Homo sapiens: one gene and its partners. The protein of the gene in region 2 purifies or fractionates together with the protein of the main gene of each other region. This does not show direct contact. Each region holds a gene or a part of one and is shown on either strand. Other genes may lie near its edges.

Region 1 (3,500 bases), on a different chromosome or scaffold from region 2:
CGCCTTTGCAAAATTATAACTGAGGAAACTATGAAAGTGAAAGATGTCAGACCTAACCGACTCCATCTTGCTTCTAACTTGTAAGCTGTCCTTGTGGATTCCTGGGTGTAAGCCAGACTAACTTTGGGAAGGAATTCAGTTCATGGTTTGACTCTGAAACAAAATTGATAACAGCCCTTTCCCAAAAAGACCCCCTTCTTGCCCGGGGACCAGTCTGCCTTTGCAGGACTAACAAATTAGCTACAAGATTAGAAATTACACTTTAGGGGTCATGCAGCCTCTGACTCCAAGAGTCTGAACCTCTTCAAATTGCTCCTGGGGAGAACATCACTGTTGTAAAACCCAAGATCAGCGCCTGAGATGTTCTGCAGACCCTGCATTCAGTGGATCAGCTGACACCACCCAGACCAGTAATCTGGCTCAACCAGTTCTGCCATCCCACCCAGGAGGAGGAAAACAGCAAGAAAACCTCACTTTGACCATCTATGACTCCATCTCCAACCTGACCAATCAGCACTCCCCACTTCCCAAGCCCCTACCTGCCAAATTATCTTTAAAAACTCGATTTCCTGGCCAGGCGCGGTGGCTCACGCCTGTAATCCCAGCACTTTGGGAGGCCGAGGCGGGCGGATCACTTGAGGTCGGGAGTTCAAGAACAGCCTGACCAACATGAAGAAACCCCGTCTCTACTAAAAGTACCAAAATTAGCCGGGCGTGTTGGCGCATGCCTGTAATCCCAGCTACTTGGGAGGCTGAGGCAGGAGAATCACTTGAACCTGGGAGGCAGAGGTTGCGGCGAGCCGAGATCGCGCCATTGCACTCCAGCCTGGGCAACAAGAATGAAACTCCGTCTCAAAAAAAAACAAAAACAAAAACAAAAAAAAACTCGATTTCCAAATGCTCAGGGAGACTGATTTGAGTAACAGTAAAACTCCAGTCTCCCACACAGCCGGCTCTGGGTGAGTTACTCTTTCTTCATTGCAATTCCCCTGTCTCGATAAATCAACCCTGTCTAAGCAGCAGGCAAGGTGAACCCATTGGGTGGTTACATAAACACAATTTTTATCCTAGCTTTCTTGGTAAAATTCCTTTTGTTAATCTCAGTGTTTCAACTGAATTTGGAGGGAGAGTTTGGCTGGAGAAATAGAGTGGGGAGGAAGGAGTAATTTCACAAGAGAAAGAGCCTAACTGCAGAAAACAGAACACCTGGAAGTAATCCCGCTTCATTTGAATCGTAACAGGGGTAGTTAATGAGATCAACCCTGAGGGTAAGTGAGTCTAAAATAGTGCTGCTGCGGGCCACGCTTTGAACCCAGCACTTCCTTGTTGCAGCTCTAGAGAAAACAGTCTGTTAAGAAGTAAGCACTCAGGCCGGGTGCAGTGGCTCAGGCCTATAATCCCAACACTTTGGGAGACCAAAGCGAGAGAGGCCAGGAGCTCAAGACCGGCCTGCGCAACAAGGTGAGACCCCCGCCCCCCACAACTCTACAAAAAAATAAAATAATTAGCCAGGTGTGGTAGTGCACACCTGTGGTCCCAGCTACTGGGGAGACTGAGATGGGAAGATTACTTGAGCCCGGGGCAGGGTCAAAGCTGCAGTGAGCCATGACTGCCACTGCACTCCAGCCTAGGTGACAGAATGAGACCTTGTCTTAAAATGTTAAAAAAAAAAAAAAAAAGTAAGAAGTACTCAACGTTATACCTACCAAAGAAAAGCCATAGGTGATGGGAAGGAGGAAGTAAAAGGAAATCTATATTGGGAAAGAGAGTAGCGGGTAGGGCATTACCAATCATAACAAGCTAATAACTCCCCTGCACATAGGGAAAGGAAACAGCAGCTCTGAGAACACGGAGATGGAAAATGGAAATCATGCTTTCTCTATGTTTATCTCTAAAAGTTTCATTTGAATACACAGGCTGGGACAGACGGAAGAGGAAGAAAGCAGGGGTGTCCGGGAGGTAAGTGTCTCAGAAGCATGTAGAAATGACACATGCTCCAACTTGAAATCAAACCTGTGGTAAGGCTTATGATTCTAGGGATGGGGAGTCCAAGGAAAAATCAAATATTCGCAAAATGTTGCTACATTTTAAGCTTTGGCATGTATTTATTTAATGTTGCCCTAAGAGAATTACCTACTTTGTAAATTATTTTGCCTCATAGAAACAGAGTGGAAGCGGACATTCTCCTTTCTGCCTTAAAAAAAAAAATGCTTTTGTCAGTCCTGAAGAAAAGGTCTTGAAGTTTGCGAAAACTCTTAAAATGAAAGGGGGCTGAGCATGGTGGCTCTTGTCTGTAATCCCAGCACTTTGGGAGGCCGAGGTGGGTGGAACACTTGAGGTCAGGAGTTTGAGACCAGCTTGGCCAACATGATGTAACCCTGTTTTTACTAAAAATACAAAAATTAGCCAGGCGTGATGGTGCGCGCCTGTAATTCCAACTATTTGGGAGGCCGAGGCAGGAGAATTGCTTAAACCCAGGAGGCAGAGGTTGTAGTGAGCTGAGGTCACGCCATTGCACTCCAGCCTGGGCCACAGAGCGAGACTCTGTCTCTAAATAAACAAATAAATAAAATAAAATGACAAGGAGCATAACCATCTCTCAAGAACCTGATGAATGTGTAGATACTGAAGCTGAGAACTGGTTACCTCTGCTTGTTCCTAGGCTGATTTAGGCTAGCTCCCTGAAGCTCGCCCAGCACTTCCAGTCCCACGCACACAGCAGTCTCCAACCCAGAGGGCCTCGCCTTGCCACGCCCAGGCTGAGAGGACTTCCACCCTAGAGAATCTCTCATCCTTTTCCCTGTTCTCCCTGCGCCACTCCTTCTCCTCCTCCCAACTCACCTTGTCATTCACTGGAACGAAGTTGCTATCCATGGTGACAATGCGGAAATACACTGGAAAGGAACAGGCATCATTAGCAAAGGGGATGTTTCCTGGCTCAGAATTTTTTTTTTTTTTTTTTTTTTGATACAGGGTCTCACTCTGTCACCCAGGTTGGAGTGCAGTGGCACAACCGTGGCTCACTTCAGCCTCAAACTCCTGGGCTCAAGTGATTCTCCCACCCCAGCCTCCGGAGTAGCTGGGACCACAGGCAGGTGCCACCACACTTGGCTAATTTTTGTAGAGACAGGGTTTCACCATGTTGGCCAGGCTGGTCTATGAACTCCTGACCTCAGGTGATCCACCTGCCTTGGCCTCCCAAAGTGCTGGGATTATAGGCGTGAGCCACCGCGCTCCGCCTCCTGCTCAGAATCTTTCCTCTATCCCTCCTCCTTCCTCACACATGCTCTGAGTCAGCAAAACCCCAACAGGTTTTACTTTTTTACAAAACCTGCTCTGAGAGTAAGGTAAAGTCCAAACACAGGCCTGGAGCTCAGGAGGCAGAGCAAGAGGCAGAATAGAAGCCTCCATTGACCACCCTCCTCATCCCCCACAGTAACACCAAACTGAACAACTGCCCACGCAAAACAGCACTGTCATAAGAACCAAAAATCAGAAGA
Region 2 (3,251 bases):
GAGACTGGATGACATCCAACAGACCTTTTAGAATAAAGAGGTAGATTTTATTTATTTTATACTTCCAAATTCTTTTTGATCATCAGTGAAAATCAGTTAACGTTTCTCCACCCTCTTTCATGTGTGTTTAAAAGTATCTTTTTCACTGAATGTACCTTGTGTTCTATATGCTTCTACTCTCATTATCTGCTGATCTGATCATTTAAAAGCTAATCATGCAAGGCCAGTTTTCAGCATAATTTGGACTATTAGCCCAATATATTAGCAGTTTTGGCATTTGATTCTGAAAGTGGTTGCTGGTTCAGATAATGGCTTCTCACCAGTGTTTTTTTGTTTTTTGTTTTCTTTAAAAAAAAAAACCCTCTGGATGAGATTTCTATGAGAAACTACTTGAACATGAAATCAGCCCACCTGGAGTCTTGTAATCATTCAGTTACTTTTACTTCCCAGGCAAAATGGCAATACCTGTGCTTTGGAAGTTTCTGGAGAAGTATCCTTCAGCTGAGGTAGCAAGAACCGCAGACTGGAGAGATGTGTCAGAACTTCTTAAACCTCTTGGTCTCTACGATCTTCGGGCAAAAACCATTGTCAAGTTCTCAGGTATTTTCCTATACACCCAAAGGAAAAACATAATACATTGTGCTTATTTAAGAGAGCCACACCTTAAACTTTAATGTTCTCAGATACTATATTAATGGAGGTTTTTCAGCTCAAGCACCCAAGGCATTTAAAAAAGTCCACTTTCCCCAAACCACAGTCTCCCACTGACCTAAACAATAAATCTTTGCCCAGCACTGGGTCAGGCATGTGGGCAGAATTAGGGGAAGAAGTCAGTGAAGCAGAAAGCCCAGTTCTTGACCTCAAGGACATGACTTCTGTCTTGTTAGCACAGCACAAAAGAGTGGTTAGGAATTGGCAAATGATATGGGTGCTGCAGGAATTCAGAAGGAAGAGTAATCACAACTGGGGTTGCTGGGAAAGAGCCTTTCCTGTCCCTTTCTGCTGTTCTCTCCATCCTGCCCCATCACCACACATTTTGGGAGGGTGTCTTTAGAAGCTGACCTGATAATGTGGGATGTTGTATTCTTCAGATGAATACCTGACAAAGCAGTGGAAGTATCCAATTGAGCTTCATGGGATTGGTAAATATGGCAACGACTCTTACCGAATTTTTTGTGTCAATGAGTGGAAGCAGGTGAGGCTCACTCCCATCCATAATTCAGCACATTTGGTCTCTGAGGCAAAATAAGTCCACCATTATGGTTAAGACTATTTATTGGATACAAATGCTATTACAGTCACAAACAATTGTGTTCCTGGCTGCGGGGAAGCGGGTGGCATGTGGGTTTTGGGGTTTTTGATCAGTAGGCGCTCCCAAGTCCACAAAGACCAGTCCAGCGGCGTGGCCTCTGACTCATCTCCAGTGGTTTGTCACCTCTGGCCCTGTTCCTGTCATTCCCTATTTGTGTGCTATCTCTAAGCCTGACGTGGTTTTCCTCCTGTCAAAAGTACACCACTACAGGAAAGCAGGAAGGTTTGGGCCTGCAATGTATGCATATTGGGTTTCTCTTAGTGGTCTCAGACTACGTTTGTGGTGACTGGGTCCTGCTTCAGCCCTGTTGAATATGCCCAGCCTGTGGCATGCTGGTGGTCATCCTGGCAGCTGGTGGGTGGCCTGGTATGCTGCCCACTCAGCTTGAGACTCACCCTCATGCATTCAGCCAGTAGGTCTGGCCAAGCCTGAACTGAAGGACCATGGTCCTATCCCAGCTTCATCAGAGCAATCCATTGTGACCTGAGAATCCATTTAACCTCTCGGTCTAGAACCTCCTTCTGGAAAGTGAGGTATTAATACTTGACTCATGTTATCGCCACCCCACATTCTAAGTCATGGTTGAGTAGTAATTTGGACAGTACCTTGTAAATTGTGTGAGATTACCTTAATATAAGGTATAACTTAAAATATTCATGAATCCCAGGAGGTTAAAGGTTATAACTTTTAGGTATGGTATCGTAATGTACTGTCCCCCAGCAAACATTTAAAAAGCCAATTTTAAAAAATGTATTTCTGACTAAGTTACATTAAGGTCTCTGCCTCTGTATCTTATGTTTCTTCCAGGTGCACCCTGAAGACCACAAATTAAATAAATATCATGACTGGCTTTGGGAAAATCATGAAAAATTAAGTCTATCTTAAACTCTGCAGCTTTCAAGCTCATCTGTTATGCATAGCTTTGCACTTCAAAAAAGCTTAATTAAGTACAACCAACCACCTTTCCAGCCATAGAGATTTTAATTAGCCCAACTAGAAGCCTAGTGTGTGTGCTTTCTTAATGTGTGTGCCAATGGTGGATCTTTGCTACTGAATGTGTTTGAACATGTTTTGAGATTTTTTTAAAATAAATTATTATTTGACAACAATCCAAAAAAAATACGGCTTTTCCAATGATGAAATATAATCAGAAGATGAAAAATAGTTCTAAACTATCAATAATACAAAGCAAATTTCTATCAGCCTTGCTAAAGCTAGGGGCCCACTAAATATTTTTATCGGCTAGGCGTGGTGGTGCATGCCTGTAATCTCGGAAGGCTGAGGCAGGAGGATCATTTGAGCTCATGAGGGCCCAGGAGGTCAAGGCTTCAGTGAGCCATGATCATGCCACTGCACTCCAGTCTGGATGACAGAGAGAGACCCTGTCTCAAAAAATATATATTTAAAAAATAAAAATAAAAGCTGACCCCAAAGACAAATAAGATTCCTCTGGCATTGTGTATTGTTGACAGCTCCACACTAGCTCTTAGGAATTGTAGATTCCACCCCAGTATCCATTTGATAACCTAATGTGAATATGGGCCTGCTGCTCCATTTCAGCTCACTCACTCTTTTACCTTGGTCCCTTTGTGAAAACTCATTTCTCATCTTCCATTTGGAGTTTATACCATTTGGCCAGGCACAGTGGCTTACACCTGTAATCCTAGCACTTTGGGAGGCTGAGGCAGGAGGATTGCTTGAGCCCAGGAGTTCAAAACCAGACTGGGCAACATAATGAGACCCCGTCTCTACAAAAAATTTTAAAAATTAATTGGGCATGGTGACATACACTTGTGGTCCCAGCTACTCAGAAGGCTGAGGTGGGAGAATCCCTTGAGCCCAGGAGATTGAGGCTGCAGTGAGCTATGATCACACCACTGCACTTCAGCCTGGATGACACAGCAAGACCCTGTCTTAAAAAAAATAAGTCTTAATGCCA
Region 3 (3,500 bases), on a different chromosome or scaffold from region 2:
TGGAAGGCATCCAAAAATAATCATTAGCTGTACATTATTCAATTTGAATGGAACACCAGCAAGTTCAAACTTTTGTCTCAAATGTCAATTTATTTTTCATGAGAAAACTCTGAGCTATTTTATGAAGGGACACGTAATACTAGGAAAGCTATGATTTACAAATTATTTCCTTCAACCATACACATGTATTCATGTATTCACACACACCAGCACCCAGGATTTAACTGGCATTTACACTTGCTATCACCCCATTTTTATTAAGTTACCAGAAAGGTTTTTCATCAGATAATTTTTTTTCTAGCCAGATTTAGTTGATAATTCTGAAAATCCCTAATAAACTCATATGAGCTTTCAAAGATACAATACCACATATATACAAAATCAGTAATTAACTTAAAAATTGTACACTAAATCCAACGAAAGTCATTTTATGAGAAGTCCAAGTCAAAGCAAGCAATGGAATCCCCTGTGGTTGTAGGGTTGCAGAGAAACTGATGACTGCATGTGACATAGTAACTGCCTGGAATGTTCTCTTCTTATTTCACATATATTAGTATCAGTATAATATGAAGGTGGCAAGATGAACTGAAATTGAGTGGACATCAATTCTGCCTCTTCCAGCTCCTAAGAAGGAAGGGGAAAGCACACATAGGATATCATATGAAATCCTCTGCTCTCTTTCAGATTTGCTTGGCTTCACCCTCTGATGTGTTCCACACCACTTCATGCCACTTTTCAAAAAGATGATAAAACGTCAGGCTGAGTAGAACAGAACTGGGTGCAAATAAATCTCTCTGAAGCTAACTTGCCTCTCTCTACCCCTACTTCCCTCTGCACGTGCCTTTGCTTTATTCCCCTGCATGAGAGAAGCAGTCAAATCTTTCCCATTTTCATACCTGGATTGCTGCTCAACAGCCTCAACAACTGAGACCTGAATGTATCCCCATTTTAAAGAACCTAACAGAACATTAAAATTGTTTCCTGAGCCTTCTGATTCCACATATATAAAAGCCATTGCTACAGATATTGATTCATACAGGACCAGACACATCTGTTACAGAGTTTTTCTTTCATACACTCTTCAGTACCAGCTGCAAGGAACGACTATTTTAGGACATCATCTGGAAACATAGACAGTTAACCGTTAAGAAGACCATATTAAAATGATACAATTTATATGTGTATTTCATAAGAAGAATTTTCCAAATCTAACTTTGTACATTCCTCCAAAACCCATCATGTTTCTCAAAACCCTTCTTCTTCTATCTAGTTACTTATTCTTTTTTTTTTTGAGACACAATCTCACTCTGTCGCCCAGGCTGGAGTGCAGTGGCATGATCTCGGCTCACTGCAACCTCCGCCTGCCAGGTTCAAGCAATTCTCCTGCCTCAGCCTCCCGAGTAGCTGGGATTACAGTCATATGCCACCATGCCCAGCTAATTTTTGTATTTTTAGTAGAGACAGGGTTTCTCCATGTTAGCCAGGCTGGTCTCAAACTCCTGACCTCGGGTGAACCACCCGCCTTGGCCTCCCAAAGTGCTGGGATTACAGGCATGAGCCACCGCACCCGGCCTAACTACTTACCCTTTTAAAAAAAAATACTTTATTGTTAAAGTAGGCTGCCTATGTTAAAATAGTACATTTCAATATGTAAAACAGACATTACAAATAGAACTGCAGACAACACACAACCATTTAGGCTGAATAAACTTTCTAATAATCATCTAGGGAGTTGACATTCTCTCTTCAAGAAGGAGGAGAACTTTTAAAGATCTTCAATCATTCATCATTGAACAAGCATTCACTGAACACCTACTAAGCTCAAGGCACTGTACTAGTCTCTGAGGGAAAATGACAGGTAAGACACAGATCCCATCATATTGACTCAATCCAGTGTTTCAGAACACGAGAGCAGGGATATATCCCAAGTGATCTTCCTTGACTTCTCTTCTACACCTAAACATTTCTTTATTCATAAATATGCGTACATATACATGTACATATAATTTATATAAACATAAATGTCTGTGTTGGTAGATAATTCTCCAGGGATCTGGTGTGGGAGTTCAGTCAGGGTGGTGGGAAAAACTGCAGAGGAAAAATTGTAAAGATAGTTATAGGAAATAGTCACAAACCTTCTTAGAAGGCTGGGGGGTGGTGGTGCATAGCTTCAGTAAAAGATTTGGCTGAAAGCAGCCGAATCCTCTTTACCTCGAGTTGATAGCAAAAGAGCAAATAACAAGGGAATGTGGGAGAGTTTACCTAAATAGCTTGTTTACTCATGTGGTCCTAAGAGCAACCTTTGATTATCTGTGGGTGCATGACTGCTCTCCCCTGGGGGGGGTGGGGAGGGGTGGCAATGTTAATTACCTTCTAGTGGTGTTTACTCATGACCCTTGTCATTTAATCTGTACTAAATAAATGTGAACTTCACCGGCTTATCATGGCCTACACTGCAGATTCAGGAGCAGAACCCCTTTAGCCACACTGACAAGCAAAATGTCTGTGTCAGTGTACGTCTCTCATCCATCACTAGGTCAGTGTCTGCGGGTCGGATGCCCACAATCTGGCATTTCTGAATGCCTTCTGAGCAAAGGGCATTAATATCTTTGTTCAAGGACTTTTGCATAACCGACAGCCTTGGAAGCTAGAGTTTATCCCTCCAGGTCAGGGGGCAGATTTGTTTCCTAAGCAATATAAGGTAACATATTCCTTCAGGACAAAGATTGAGCAGGATCACTAGCAGCTCCCTCATAATACCGGAGGGTTCCTAAGCTCACTGCCCCTCAGCTATAACAAAGACCCACTGAGTGCATTGTATGCACCTCAGCCTACCTCTACATCACCCCATTGAACTTGGGGGACAAGGAGAATCAATGTGAACATGAAGCTAATGCTGCCTGCTGTGCATTAAGCAGTAACTGTCCAAATCCATCTGGGTTCACTGTCTCCTTACTGGCTGAATCCATGGAAGTGTGTTAGTGACCAAGGAACTGCAGTTGTCATTGCTGCCTAGGAACTGCTGGGCCACTTGATTATACTTTTTTTTTTAATCATCTTGCTCTTTTTCACTGTTTTATCTGAGAAAGAAGTGTCTTCCTCCCTTCCACAGGAAACTCTATCACTGGTCTTGTGCTTGTTTTTTGTTTTTGTTTGCTTTTTGAGATTGAGTCTCACTCTGTCACCCATGCTAGAGTGCAGCAGGGTGATCATGGCTCACTGCAGTGTTCAGGCTGGTCTCAAACTCTTGACCTCAGGTGATCCACCCGCCTCAGCCTCCCAAAGTGCTGGGATTACAGGTGTAAGCCACCACACCTAGCCTAGGCATAAAATCTTAAAGCTGCCTTCAACTTTTTTTTTTCCCTCCTTCTTTCATACTTAGCATTCAACTGCCAAATCCCACAAGTCCTCCAGAATTTCTCTCCCTTCCACCCTCCTAATTCAGGCCTTTCTCTGGCTTCTGCAATAGTGGTCTCCTCGCCGCCTGCCTCTCCCCACAC
Region 4 (3,500 bases), 2.9 Mb from region 2:
GAAAAATGTATGTGTATTTATATGACTGTCCTCTTTGTTGACTTATCCTTTTTCACCTCACAAGAACTAGTAGGGCCAGACTTTCTTGTCCTGCCATTTCTTTCTAAAAGAACTTCATATTGTGATAAGTAGTGGTATTGACTTTCAGAAGAAAAGCTTATATAAATGAATTTACCCATTCCTACCCAGTCCATAGCTTTTGGTTTAACTCTGGATCAGTGGGTGGCTCATATTTTGCAGAGTAAGGGTGCAGTAGGGAAATAATACCTCATTCCTTTATGAAAGGGTTAGAAATCTTTCTATGAACCTGACAGAGTTAAATGATATTTCCTTAAAAGCTGAATGGGCTGCCTGAGAGGCCAGTTAGGAAAGGCAATATATTTCTGGAGCCTTCAGTAATATATTCTCCCCTACCCCCATCAAGGTCTAGTTTGCTGACTTTTTTTTTCTTTTTTTTTTTTCAGAGACATTGTCTTGCTCTGTCACCAAGGCTGGAATGCAGTGGCCATCACAGCTCACTGTAACCTCAAACTCCAGGACTCAAGCAATCCTCCTACCTCAGCCTCCTGAGTAGTTGGGACTATAGGTGCATGCCACCACACGTGGCACTTTTTTTTTTTTTTTTTTTTGAGACAGAATCTTGCTCTGTCATCCAGCCTGGAGTGCAGTGGCACGATTTCAGCTCACTGCAACCTCCACTTCCTGGGTTCAAGCGATTCTCTTGCCTCAGCCTCCCGAGTAGCTGGGATTACAGGCATGCGCCACCACACCCGCCTAATTTTTGTATTTTTAGTAGAGATGAAATTTCGCCATGTTGGCCAGGCTGGTCTCGAACTCCTGAGCTCAGGCAATCCGCCCACCTTAGCCCAAAGTGCTGGGATTATAGGCATGAGCCACTACACCTGGCCACACGTGGCTAATTTTTAAAAGTGTTTTGTAGAGGTAGGGCCTCATTATGCTGCCCAGGCTCATCCTGAACTTCTAGCCTCAAATGATCCTCCCATCTCAGCCTCCCAGAAGTGCTGGGATTACAGGCAGGAGCCACCATACCTGGCTGTAGTTCACTGACTCTTGAGGAAAGCCTGCACCTTGCACACAGTGGATACTTGGTAAATATGCGTTAAATGAATGGTTAAGTACAAGCAGGGCAGGTGAGACCTTGTGCCAATATTTATTACCCGTTAGGAAGAGTTGATTAGGAGTCCCCCAGTTTCAAAGGCAGGATTAAGAGTGAGAGAAAGTGAGTTCGTGAAAGAGGAGACCAAAGTGGAGTGACCTACAGAGGAAATAAGTGAGAGAGATTTGGAAAAAATATCACATGACATGACCACATTTTGGAATAGCTCAGATCAAACTGTAGTAAGGAAGAAAAAAAAATTATGACTGGAACAAAAATGGGGGCTCTTGTTTTCACTGAAGAGTCTTTTACAATGCTAATGAATTTTCACTGAAATAGTTGCTGATGATTAAGTGAAAATACTGGGAAAGTAGCATGTGATTGGGTCAATTAACTTTAGGATGGATGGAGGCAAACTGTGTCATCTGTTATTAAGATAGAACTACGGAAGTAATTGCTGCCCCCCAGACTCTCACGATGACCTCAAAGTTAGAAGTCAATATGAATTAGGTGGGTGGTCAGAATCTTGCCCCATATTTAGTGAGCTAGTTGGGAAAACAGGAACAGAGAGTACTCCTTTTGGCCAGAAGGTGGAGCATGGTGAGTGAGAAACACCATGTAACCTTGAAAAGCAATCGTAATTTATCTGGCCACAAACGGTATTTCAAATGCATCGCAAAGCAAGAAAGAAGTTCTTTCTTGTTAAGCAAATATAAATAGCCTGGCTTATATTTTGCTTGTTTATTTCTACATTCGGAAATCAGGTAATTTTCCCCTCTTTCTTTATAACAACATTGTTTTTTCATTAAGACCAAGGACAGGAACCCAGCATTTTTGAGTGGCTGCAAAATAAATAAGCTCCTACTGAATCCAAGGGGGGAAAAAACTAAAGTGGAAACTCATAGAAGAAAAGCAATTTTGCTTGTAATTTTCTAAAGGGTGAAAACATAAATAATAATAGAGAGAAAAGAGAAGTCAGCATTTTCAAGTTAATATAAGGAAGTTGTGAATTACGTTTCAATGTCAAAAGAAGTATAAGTAATACATTCATAAAGAAGTGAAAGAAAAGATATTCATCTATTTCAAAATAAGCATAAATCATAAAATCAGATTGCAAGTTAACCTGTGATTTTTTTTTCTTTTACCTCACAATATAAAGGGTCGTAGACTTTACTCCAAATTCCAAAAAGGTCCTGGCCATGTAATCCTGAAAGTTTTCCCAAGGTAGCTATAAAATCCTGAAACACAAACAGAGAAAGAAAAATTCCTACACAGGTTTCTCAGCTTCAGCATTATTGATATTTTGGGCCAGACAATTGTTTGTTGTAGGGAGCTCTCCTGTGCATTATAGGATGTTTCACAGTATCCTGGCCTCTGCCCACTAGATGCCAGTAGCATTCCTAATCTCCCACTTGTATAACCCAGAATATCTCCCGACATTGCCAAATGTTCCTTGTGAGGCAAATGCGCCCCTGTTGAGAACCGCTGTTCTTCACAGAAAAATGCACCAGTAATATTGGTTACGATAATGTCATTCCAAAGAATTTTACAAACACGAATTGATTATTCCTTATTATTACATTTAAAATGTAGATAGATGCTGGCTGACTGCCACATGTTCCTGGTTCGTGCTGGAATTGGATTGAAGTGTACTGCCTCAGATTCTTTTTAGAAGTGGGTAAAGTATAACTCATGTGTAAATATGTCCCAGGTGAGAAAGGAAAGCATATTTCAGGCCAAAGCATCCTGGAACATGCAACACAAATAGGGCTTGGTCTTTGGCTATACATATAAAACTTGGATGGAATGCAAATCTTTCGCTAGGTTCTGTATGTTTCTTGGAATGTCGCAATAATGAGACCCAATGTTCAGCTATCTGACTGCTGAAATTGGCAGCCATTTCTGGGAAGCCTTTTTGGAAGATATTGTCTGTCTGATGGATGAAATTTCTAGGGAACTACAATTTGCCAATATTAACCTCAATAGATTTTCATAAAATAATAGAAATTATTGTTAAAGAGCTCCTACTGCCATCTTCTCAAACATAAAAGCTCCAGGGCCAGATGACTGTCATAGAGGAATTCTACCAAGCTTTTCAAGAGTAAATTATTCTAATGCTATTTTAACTGTTCTGGAGCATAGAAGATGAAAGAAAACTTTCAAAAACTTCTTATGAATTAAGTGTAACACTGATACTGACAAAGATTGCCCCCAAAATAAAACTATTAGTTCAATGCCACTTGTAAATATCAATGCAAAAGGTGTAAGTAAAATAACAGGAAGTAATTCAATGTCACATAAAAGGAAATGGGTTTGATTTGAGAAATATAAAGATTGTTCAACATTGGTAAATCTATGAATGTAATCAATCATTGTAATTAAT

The links.
Region 1: the proteins of MBD4 (region 2) and A2ML1 purify together in Homo sapiens (affinity purification with mass spectrometry; one large-scale study listed by BioGRID and IntAct). This does not show direct contact.
Region 3: the proteins of MBD4 (region 2) and RWDD3 purify together in Homo sapiens (affinity purification with mass spectrometry, with the first as the bait; one large-scale study listed by BioGRID). This does not show direct contact.
Region 4: the proteins of MBD4 (region 2) and ACP3 purify together in Homo sapiens (affinity purification with mass spectrometry; one large-scale study listed by BioGRID and IntAct). This does not show direct contact.

The regions. Positions count from the first base shown.
Region 1 is NC_000012.12:8,829,121-8,832,620, reverse strand, and holds part of A2ML1 (alpha-2-macroglobulin-like protein 1 isoform 1 precursor), read right to left. Parts: intron 2,895-3,500; coding exon 2,842-2,894; intron 1,960-2,841; exon of another isoform or gene 1,315-1,959; intron 1-1,314. UniProt on the Homo sapiens protein: Is able to inhibit all four classes of proteinases by a unique 'trapping' mechanism. This protein has a peptide stretch, called the 'bait region' which contains specific cleavage sites for different proteinases.
Region 2 is NC_000003.12:129,430,447-129,433,697, reverse strand, and holds the end of MBD4 (methyl-CpG-binding domain protein 4), read left to right. Parts: intron 1-450; coding exon 451-600; intron 601-1,091; coding exon 1,092-1,195; coding exon of another isoform or gene 1,196-1,249; exon of another isoform or gene 1,250-1,522; intron 1,523-2,119; coding exon 2,120-2,197; 3' UTR 2,198-2,751; downstream 2,752-3,251. UniProt on the Homo sapiens protein: Mismatch-specific DNA N-glycosylase involved in DNA repair. Has thymine glycosylase activity and is specific for G:T mismatches within methylated and unmethylated CpG sites. Can also remove uracil or 5-fluorouracil in G:U mismatches. Has no lyase activity.
Region 3 is NC_000001.11:95,240,710-95,244,209, reverse strand, and holds part of RWDD3 (RWD domain-containing protein 3), read right to left. Parts: intron 1-3,500. UniProt on the Homo sapiens protein: Enhancer of SUMO conjugation.
Region 4 is NC_000003.12:132,341,407-132,344,906, reverse strand, and holds part of ACP3 (prostatic acid phosphatase isoform PAP precursor), read right to left. Parts: intron 2,356-3,500; coding exon 2,263-2,355; intron 1-2,262. UniProt on the Homo sapiens protein: A non-specific tyrosine phosphatase that dephosphorylates a diverse number of substrates under acidic conditions (pH 4-6) including alkyl, aryl, and acyl orthophosphate monoesters and phosphorylated proteins.